Linked DNA regions of Homo sapiens. The protein of the gene in region 1 purifies or fractionates together with the protein of each later gene. This does not show direct contact. Each region holds a gene or a part of one and is shown in the gene's direction. Other genes may lie near its edges.

Region 1 (4,719 bases):
CTTGGAGAACTTCAATTACATGTCCAAGGTTTAATGGCCAATAATGACAGAACTGGGATTCAAATCCATGCTGAATGACTCCAGAGATCCCCTCTTAACCATTAAGCCATACTGTGCTTCTAACTCCTCTCTCCTCCCTGGCCCTCTCCACTCCCTTTTTAGTTAATTTTTTATATATAATTATATATTTTTTAAAAACTCTCAAAACATGTTGACATTCGTTGGATATATCAAACTCTGAAACATCTTTTACTGCTCACAGAATTTCAGATCACCTGGTGTGATGGAAATATCGTGTGAGGTGGAATCCAATCCATGTTTTATCACTTATCAAATGTGTGACCTTGGACAAATCATTTCACTTTTCAAGGCTTCCATTTTATCATCTGTGGAATTATAAAAATAATACCTGCTTTTCTCATCTCAAGTGGATTCAGTGATTGTTTATGATAATAGAACTTGATCTACAACATGCTATAAAAATGAGAGATTTTTGCCACAAAAGTGGCCAAATTATCTTTGCCTTGACGTTTGCTTTCTCCAGCTGCAGGCAGCAGAAAATGAGAAAGTGAGGTGGGAACTAGAAAAAACCCAACTCCAACAAAACATAGAAGAGAATAAGGAAAGAATGTTGAAGTTGGAAAGCTACTGGATTGAGGCCCAAACATTATGCCACACAGTGAATGAGCATCTCAAAGAGACTCAAAGCCAGTATCAGGCCTTGGAAAAGAAATACAACAAGGCAAAGAAGTTGATCAAGGATTTTCAACAAAAGTAAGCCGCTTCTAATAACTAAAGAATAGTTATGTTTGTCTAAAGAAGGTTTATGTCCAATAATTTTGTAATATCTAGTGGAACAGAAAAGATGACCTTAGAGATATCTTTCCTATCCAGGAGCATAGTTACAGCATAAATACACATTAAGTTTTGGAAGTCACTTCTATCACTTTTTCATGAGATTATGTTTTGTATATTTTATAGTTTTTGGCTGCCAGGGCCTCTTTGCTATTTTTGATAATTAATCGTTGTTTATAACTGTTAAAACATCTGAATTTCTTTATTCTTTTTGAAACACCTCTATGATTTAGAAACAAGAAGCCCAGCGGAAAGTCATGTAGAATGACTGACTATTGGATGTGGAGCACGCAAGCCACAGCTGGGGCCTGAATCAGGCTGCTCCTCTCTATTCTTAGATCAGTAACTACAGAATTTCCCACTACAGACAGTGCACATATCGACTAGCAAGGCCCCCTGCCCTGCCACTCTGCATTTCTCAGCTGTTGAGAGAATCAGGAGGGCCTCCTTTCACTGCAGGGAGAGAGACCATTACCACATTCTGCTTTTGATTTTCAACAGCTGTTTCTGAGCTACTGCTCCTTTGCTTCCATCTCTTGGATCTCGGTGTAATGTCACGGAGACTGACCACGGAGATTTTTACTAGATTTTTTTCATCAGTTACTTCTGGCTAGTTAGAACAAATAAGTAGTACCAGTACCTTTTCTGGTCTTCCATGCCAAGCCTCAGAAGCTAAGCATATATGTAAGATTAACCATATTTCTTTTATTTCCTATTATGTGGAAGAATGTTTTTAATATTTAAAAGAGTTTTGCTATCAAAAGTTTCTTGTTAAAAGGGGAGTAATTATTCTCTGTGACTATAAATTCAATACATCACTGTTTTAACTATTTGCCAAACTCTTTTTCATGAAATAATTTTATAGTAAATTTTGCTAAATTTGCATATTCTATTCCAGGTTTTCAAAATGGAACTGTTTCTCTTCTCCCCATATTATCCTTAGGTCTATAAGTGAGTGCCCCTCTCGATGTTTCTGACCCACCCAGCCCCCTCTTCACTGTTATTCATAGAAATCTTACAATTATCTTTTTCGAACTCTTATCTAGTTACATCAGTTTACTATACTATGCTTATGACATTGGAAAAATGGAATTATTTCTACCTGACAAGTAATTATCTCCACTAAATTACCCAATGTGGGTCATTAGTGCAGTCTTTCCTATCTAAATATGTATGGGTGTTCTAGAATCAGGAGCTACGAAAGAAAATTATAGTAAGCAGAATCGAATCATTTTTCTTTGCCTTGTGACCCATTAAAGATGTTTTAGTTTCTTTCATTACTATACTTTTTCCTCTAACTGATTGAATGTTGTCCATTTAAATAACTGTTCAGTTGCTTATCCTACTATGCAGTTTATTGTTTCAGATAAGAACTTTCATTTATTGAGTGTATGATATAATCAGAACTATTATTTTCTTCTTAAGAGAGCTTGATTTCATCAAAAGACAGGAAGCAGAAAGAAAGAAAATAGAAGATTTGGAAAAAGCTCATCTTGTGGAAGTGCAAGGCCTCCAAGTGCGGGTAAGTTGTGTTCCCTAAGACACTAAATAATAAGATGGTTTTGCTGTACTTGGAGGGGAGCGCTAGTTTAGAGTTTTATAAATGGATTTGTTTTTCCTAGATTAGAGATTTGGAAGCTGAGGTATTCAGGCTACTGAAGCAAAATGGGACTCAAGTTAACAATAATAACAACATCTTTGAGAGAAGAACATCTCTTGGTGAAGTCTCTAAAGGGGATACCATGGAGAACTTGGATGGCAAGCAGACATCTTGCCAAGATGGCCTAAGTCAAGGTTTGTTTAACCCAACCACAAAAATCATTTTTGATGACTGTGTAATTTGGCCTTTTATTTTTCTTTTTCTGACCCAGAGATTTAAAAGTTGGAAATACCTTCCTACTATGGGAAAGAAGAAAAGGCTTATCAAAATAGGAGTCAATCATTTTAGCTCTCGTCTTATCAAAAATAAATACTTTAATATGTAGCATTAACAAATCACAACTAAAGATAAGCCAAATACTATTTTAAAATCATCATACAATTGACAGATTTAATAAACTGCCTTACAAATTGTAGTTCATCCTATCTAGGATGAACTACACTACTTATGTGTTAATGACTAAGGTTTAGATTTTTTTTTTTTTTTTTTTTTTGAGAGTCTCACTCTGTCATCCAGGCTGGAGTACAGTGGTGCAATCTCAGCTCACTACAACCTTCGCCTCCCAGGTTCAAGCGATTCTCATGCCTCAGCCTCCCCAGTAGCTGTGACTATAGGCATGTGCTACCACGTCTGGCTAATTTTTGTATTTTTAGTAGAGGTGGGCTTTTGCCTTGTTGGCCAGGCTGGTCTCGAACTCCTGACCTCAGGTGATCCACCTGCCTTGGCTTCCTAGAGTGCTAGGATTACAGGCATGAGCCACCGCGCCCAGCCAAGCTTTAGAATGTTTAAGTCACTAGAATAAAGATCTTTTTCATAATATCAGAAGGCAGACTGCTGCTTTCAGCACTTGAGATTCATGTAGTTAACGAAGTCCATATAGTTTTGTGCTTTTACCATGGTGTACTGTGTATACTTCTTAGGTCTTTCATGTCAAAGACCAAGTAAGACCAAAACACTGGAAACATTTGGTATTATAAATGATTATCTTCATTCATACACCAACCATAAATAAATTACTTATGTTCTTACACACACAACATTCTTAGATTGCACGTGTATGAACATGAATGACTGTTTTAATATCTGTGGTATATTTGCAAATTAGAAAACACATAATAATTATAAAGATAAATACACAGGAATGTGTGGCTTCATCTTTTTAAATATATACATAGTAGTCCCTGGAAAATGAAAATAAAAGAATGTGGTGCAGCAGGGTTGTCATGACAGGACCGACAACTCAGAGGCAACACTTTGACGTGCAGTAAAACCCTGTTATAATGGGCTTTTTAGTTTTTTCGTGATCTTTCTCACATATTAAACTGTCTCCAGTGAAGTTTTCCTGATAAGCAAGTGTTTATATCCTATCATGAACTTTTAGAACTAAGCTCTTAGCCATTAAAAATGGAAAGGATTAGAAATCTTCATTTAAAATTAAAATGATATCTAGAGATTTGAATCCATTCACTGGGTTTATATCCTTCTAATGGGTTTTCCCTAAATAGGATGTAATTTATAAATAGTGCCTCTTAGGCAGCTGAAAGAGGAGGATTTAGCATTAGCATTACGACTAAGTGAGGAGCTGTGTGACTTCAGGAAGAGTATTTAGCTTCTCTGGGTTGATATTACTGTGCATATTATTTTAAAAGTAGTATTTCCTTCTTCACCACTTTAAGGCCTGTTTTGAAACTATATGGTTTAGTCTTTGAAGCCAAAAAAGTAATTTATTTGAGCTCTTATGGAATTATAATTTTTATACCTGGAACACTATAAGATTGATATCTAAAGAAAAACATCAGGAATCAAACCAAATTTTTTACCTTTTTGAATATTTTAATTTTTAAAAAATTATAGTTTATATATAATAAATACATATTCCTGCTGTGGCATACTCAAAGTATGAGCAGTATCTAGTAGCTTTTCATTTCTATTCATTTCTTTCAGTTTAGAAATCTGTATCTTTTCAAACATATAATTAATGGTGTTTATTAAATTATATGACTACAGAAGATCAACACACTATACTATTAACATGCTGATTTGGATCAAAACCTTACATTTCATCTGAACCCTTTTTCTATTCTACACCCTCCATTTTGCCACATAATTATCAGTTTCCCTAGCAACACTGTTGGTTCACAGTGAGATGTGGAGACTACTAATTCTTACTGAAGCCAATCCATGCTTGTGCAGTAGAGGTAGAA
Region 2 (5,037 bases), on another chromosome or scaffold:
AATTTTTTGTATTTTTTTGGTAGAGACGGAGTTTCACCGTGTTAGCCAGGATGGTCTCAATGTCCTGACCTCGTGATCCGCCTGCCTCGGCCTCCCAAAGTGCTGGGATTACAGGCGTGAGCCACCACACCCGGCCGAAATTATGTCTAATTTTAACTTGTATTTATTGGATCACTGTAGACGTTCAGTTCTTGGCCATTTTTGTGAATTTAATTGTTTATTTTTTAGATGTTAATGTTTCGTTGATATGTATAAAATATTTATTTAAAAAAGGTAGTGTCTGGGCTGGGTGCGATGGCTCATGCCTGTAATCTCAGCACTTTGGGAGGCTGAGGCGGGTGGATCATTTAAGGTCAGGAGTTCAAGACCAGCTTGACCAACATGGTTAAACTCCGTCTCTACTAAAAATACAAAAATTAGCCAGGTGTGGTTGTATGTAATTGTAATCCCAGCTACTCAGGAGACTGAGGCAGGAGAATTGCTTGAGCCCGGGAGGCGGAGGTTGCAGTGAATCGAGATCGTACCACTGCACTCCAGCCTGGGCGATGGAGGGAGACTCTGTCTCAAAAAAAAAAAAAAAAAAAAAAAAAAAGTAGTGTCTGTCATATTAGGGATATTTTTCTCAATTTGATTTTTACCTTCAACATCCACTTAATACACATTTATCTGAATCTCCCCCATGTGCCAGGCACTAGTCTAATCATCAAGGATGAAATAGACACAGTCCCTGCCCTTAAGGATCTTACAGTCTAACAGAGGGAAGCTGGCAGATAAACAGTGACTGCAATAAAATTTTCACATCCTCCACCAGAAGTACAAATAGCTATAGCGGATGCACTAAAAGATGTGAGTGACCAATTGGACATGTAGGGGCCAGGAATAGGCTTCAGAGACGATTCTTAACTAAGAATAAAAAGCTTTACTAGAGTGACAAGGGACAAAGTAGGAAAGGCATTCCAAGTAGAGGAACACCTAAAGATAGGGCGAGAGAGCTGGTTAGTGGATTTGGGTTTGGCTTCAATATTTGGGTTTGAGGAGTAAAATGTCAAGAAAATCCAGTGGAAGAAGGGGCTGGAGAGACCTCAGAAGTCACATAATTTAAAAAATTATACATAACTTTTTGAGTAAGCTTTCCCTTTCTGATCTTACATAATGTTTAAGATAAAAAAAAAATCCTTCCTAGCCCCAGAGATTTGATGTTTACCTTCATTTTCTTCTAGTTTCTGTTTACATTTAACTAATCTATCAGGAGTTGACTTTGGCATATAATGGCAAGCTTCATTTGAATCTTATTTTTTCTGTTTTAATGTTTATCTGTGTGGTTCACTAAGCTTCTTTCTGTAACCTTATTTTGCTAATGGGTAAAAACAGGGGGTGTTAAATATCTAATAAAGAGTATTTATGCCCAGGTGGGGACAATGCTAAGAACAACAAAAGAAATTTCACTGGTGTTTTCTATTTTAATACTTAAATACCAAAAGGGAGCTGTGCCAAACATCACGGGTGCAGATATGCAGGCTTTTAGGGTCCTGGCTCTCAGAATACCACTACTACTTTGTATTCATAGACTGAAATTTTTTGAGGAGCCAACCATGTTTCCACAAACAGTAATTTATTCAAACGATAACTGAAGAGGGGAGAGGGAGGATAAATATATCATTGCCTGCTTCATTTGTTTACTACTACCAGAAATTAGGTGGAGTCAGGCTTCCTCCCCTGATGCTGGCTGGAGATTGAGTGGGGTTGGCATCTCTGTGCTGTACAGGCCAGACACTGAGACAGTTGACAACTGAGAGCTGTGATTGGTTAGAAAGGCAAAAGTAACCCGACCAGATTGGCTCTGGACTCCCCCAGATTCCCCTGTTGTTACTTCATAGCATTCTGAAGACCTGTCCACCAATTACAGGGCTCCTTACTGGAAAAACCAACTGCTGGGGAGTGCCAAGAGTCCCTAGCAACACCCTGCAGCGTTTGAAATCTGAGGGGAAAAGACTGTAGTCAGCCCTTAGTGGATGAGAGCGCCTATGCTCCAGAAACAGCAGGCTCCCAGGATGGACACCCCGCCCCCTGAAGAACGCTTAGAGAAGCAAAATGAAAAACTGAACAACCAGGAAGAGGAGACGGAGTTTAAGGAACTGGACGGTCTGAGGGAAGCCTTGGCAAACCTCCGGGGACTGTCAGAGGAGGAGAGGAGCGAGAAGGCTATGCTTCGCTCCCGCATTGAAGAGCAGTCCCAGCTCATCTGCATCCTGAAGCGGAGGTCAGATGAGGCCCTGGAGCGCTGCCAGATCCTAGAGCTGCTCAATGCAGAGCTGGAGGAGAAGATGATGCAGGAGGCTGAGAAGCTCAAGGCCCAGGGTGAGTACAGTCGGAAACTAGAGGAACGCTTTATGACCCTAGCAGCCAACCACGAGTTGATGCTCCGCTTCAAGGATGAATACAAGAGTGAGAACATCAAGCTGAGGGAGGAGAATGAGAAGCTGAGGCTGGAGAATAGCAGCCTCTTCAGCCAGGCTCTGAAGGATGAGGAGGCGAAAGTATTACAGCTCACAGTCCGGTGTGAGGCCCTCACTGGGGAGCTAGAAACGCTGAAGGAGAGGTGTGCTCAGGATGCCTGCCAGGCACAGGCGCGCGAGAAGGAGCTGCTGGAGCTACAGAGCCAGCAGGCCTGCACCCACACCAAGGAGACAGAACAGCTGCGCAGCCAGCTGCAGACCCTCAAGCAGCAGCACCAGCAGGCTGTGGAGCAGATAGCTAAGGCAGAGGAGACACACAGCAGCCTGAGCCAGGAGCTGCAGGCCAGGCTGCAGACCGTCACTAGAGAGAAAGAGGAGTTGCTGCAGCTGTCCATTGAAAGGGGCAAAGTGCTTCAGAACAAACAGGCAGAGATCTGCCAGCTTGAGGAAAAGTTGGAGATAGCAAATGAAGACAGGAAGCATGCGCTGGAGCGGTTTGAGCAAGAGGCAGTGGCTGTGGACAGCAACTTGAGAGTCAGGGAGCTTCAGCGCAAAGTAGATGGGATCCAGAAGGCCTACGATGAACTCAGGCTGCAGTCTGAAGCCTTCAAAAAGCACAGCTTGGATCTTTTAAGCAAGGAGAGAGAACTCAATGGCAAACTCCGCCATCTCTCTCCATAGGGAAGTTTCTGCTTCCTCTGGCCTGCAATTCAGAATTCAAATATTTGCGTCTTAGCATTATGGCAAGAGTAAAGATGATATCCCATTTATTATACTTTCAAGCACAAAAGGCAACTCAAAGAAAAGCTACTTTACTATGATATTGTTGTTATTATTGTAAAGCCATTATTAATTTTCATTTCTACACCTAGAATACACAAGATTTGCCAGATTTCCTTCTGTGCCTTAGAAATCTTAAATTTACTAGTAGTATCTTCTCCTACCCATAAGTTATTAATTCTCAACCTCAGATATCTTCATTTATGTTAGGATTTTAAATTAGCAGCTTCTATGATTTAAGTCAATCTAAGTGCAGTGAGATGTGCCATTGTGAAAAATAATTAGCACAATTACCCACTGTAGATAGTTAGGCTTATAGTCTCCCATAGTTGAGATTGTAAGCAAACATGTATCAGCATAATAGCATGAATGCTTTGCAGAAAAAAAAAAGTGTCTGACTTTATTTTATTTTGCGCTAGCTTGGAAAATGATTGAGATCAAGTTCTTTAACAAAGAAGGTCAATTTTATTCTGTATGAGCAATATGATTCAAATAAGTTATACAAAACAACTTTTATTTTTTCTGCAAGCTTAGATAATATTCCATTTTTTGGTTTTCTCTTTAAAAAGAGGATTTAGATGTGCAATAATGCAAATATCAGTAGCTTAATTTAATATTGCACGATATGCTAATAGACAATTAGACAATTTGGGGTAACAAATCATAGCAGACGTGATCTATAGAGTAACTCAGAAATTGTTTTGTTTCTATTAGCATATTTTTTGTAATTAAGATTTTCCTTTTTTAAAAAAATCTAAGCTGAACGTGTGTATGTATGCTTGCAGCATTTTTGTAGTAATACCTACATTTTGTAAGAATAGTTATAAAAACATGATATATATATATGTAAAGTTCTTAAAAAAGTTCTCAAAGGTAGTTATATTTTCTTATCTTCCTGTAATTAGGTATTGATATATAAACATTATTATGAATACCTCTCAAAATAGATTGTAATGTAATATTTTTCTCACCCATTTTGCTGAAGGCTACCAAGTTACATAATGAATTTACTTAAAAAATATGACTTGGTGCCTTTTTAGTAAAACCATTTCCAAGCAAGTGTTACCTTGCCTCAGGTAATTTTTTACACCCATTTTTTCACACTTCTATTAAGATTATGCTATTAAATACAAACTTTTCTCATCAAAATAGAAACCACACTGCTAGCTTCAAAGGACTATTTACTTCCTTCTACAGGTTACCAAGAATCAGAATATAGGAGCTAAGTTAATCATGGATATCCTTTATTGAGCCCATACTATTTATCATTGCGCTGAAGCAATTTGGATGAATTACTTTATTTAATTCTTAGGACTATTCAAGAAGGAAAGCGTGTTCATTTCTATTTTAAGGAAGAGGAGACTGGTTTTGGTAATTTTGCTTAAGGCCAGTTGGTCACTGGGGGAGCTGGATTTTGATGACTACAGCACACTGAAAGATAATTTTTGGCGACCAAGTGCCAGGTGCTGGGGTAGGCACTAAGAAGAAGCATAAAGAAGCATTTTTACTGCCCTGGAAGAGCCCCCATACAGTCTAAGGGCAAAAATAATAATAATAATTATTATTATTATTATTATTGTTATTATATACTGTGATCACAGAGGGAAAACATAGGCAGCATCTAGCCCTGCCTGGTGGTAAGGGTTGGGTTGGCGGGGAGGACTCCTAGGGATGATTAATTTCCTCAGGTGGAGAAAAGGGTGATGGGGTTGAGACAGCATCAAGTAGAAAGCATAGAGATATATTTAAATGCCCAGAATACTTGGGGGAATCATAGCAGTTGGGAAGAGGTGAAGAGAAG

The links.
Region 2: the proteins of PPP1R9A (region 1) and CCDC89 purify together in Homo sapiens (co-immunoprecipitation; one large-scale study listed by IntAct). This does not show direct contact.

The regions. Positions count from the first base shown.
Region 1 is NC_000007.14:95,249,482-95,254,200, forward strand, and holds part of PPP1R9A (neurabin-1), read left to right. Parts: intron 1-544; coding exon 545-774; intron 775-2,280; coding exon 2,281-2,377; intron 2,378-2,477; coding exon 2,478-2,649; intron 2,650-4,719. UniProt on the Homo sapiens protein: Binds to actin filaments (F-actin) and shows cross-linking activity. Binds along the sides of the F-actin. May be involved in neurite formation. Inhibits protein phosphatase 1-alpha activity.
Region 2 is NC_000011.10:85,683,106-85,688,142, reverse strand, and holds CCDC89 (coiled-coil domain-containing protein 89), read left to right. Parts: upstream 1-1,947; 5' UTR 1,948-2,012; coding exon 2,013-3,137; 3' UTR 3,138-4,295; downstream 4,296-5,037.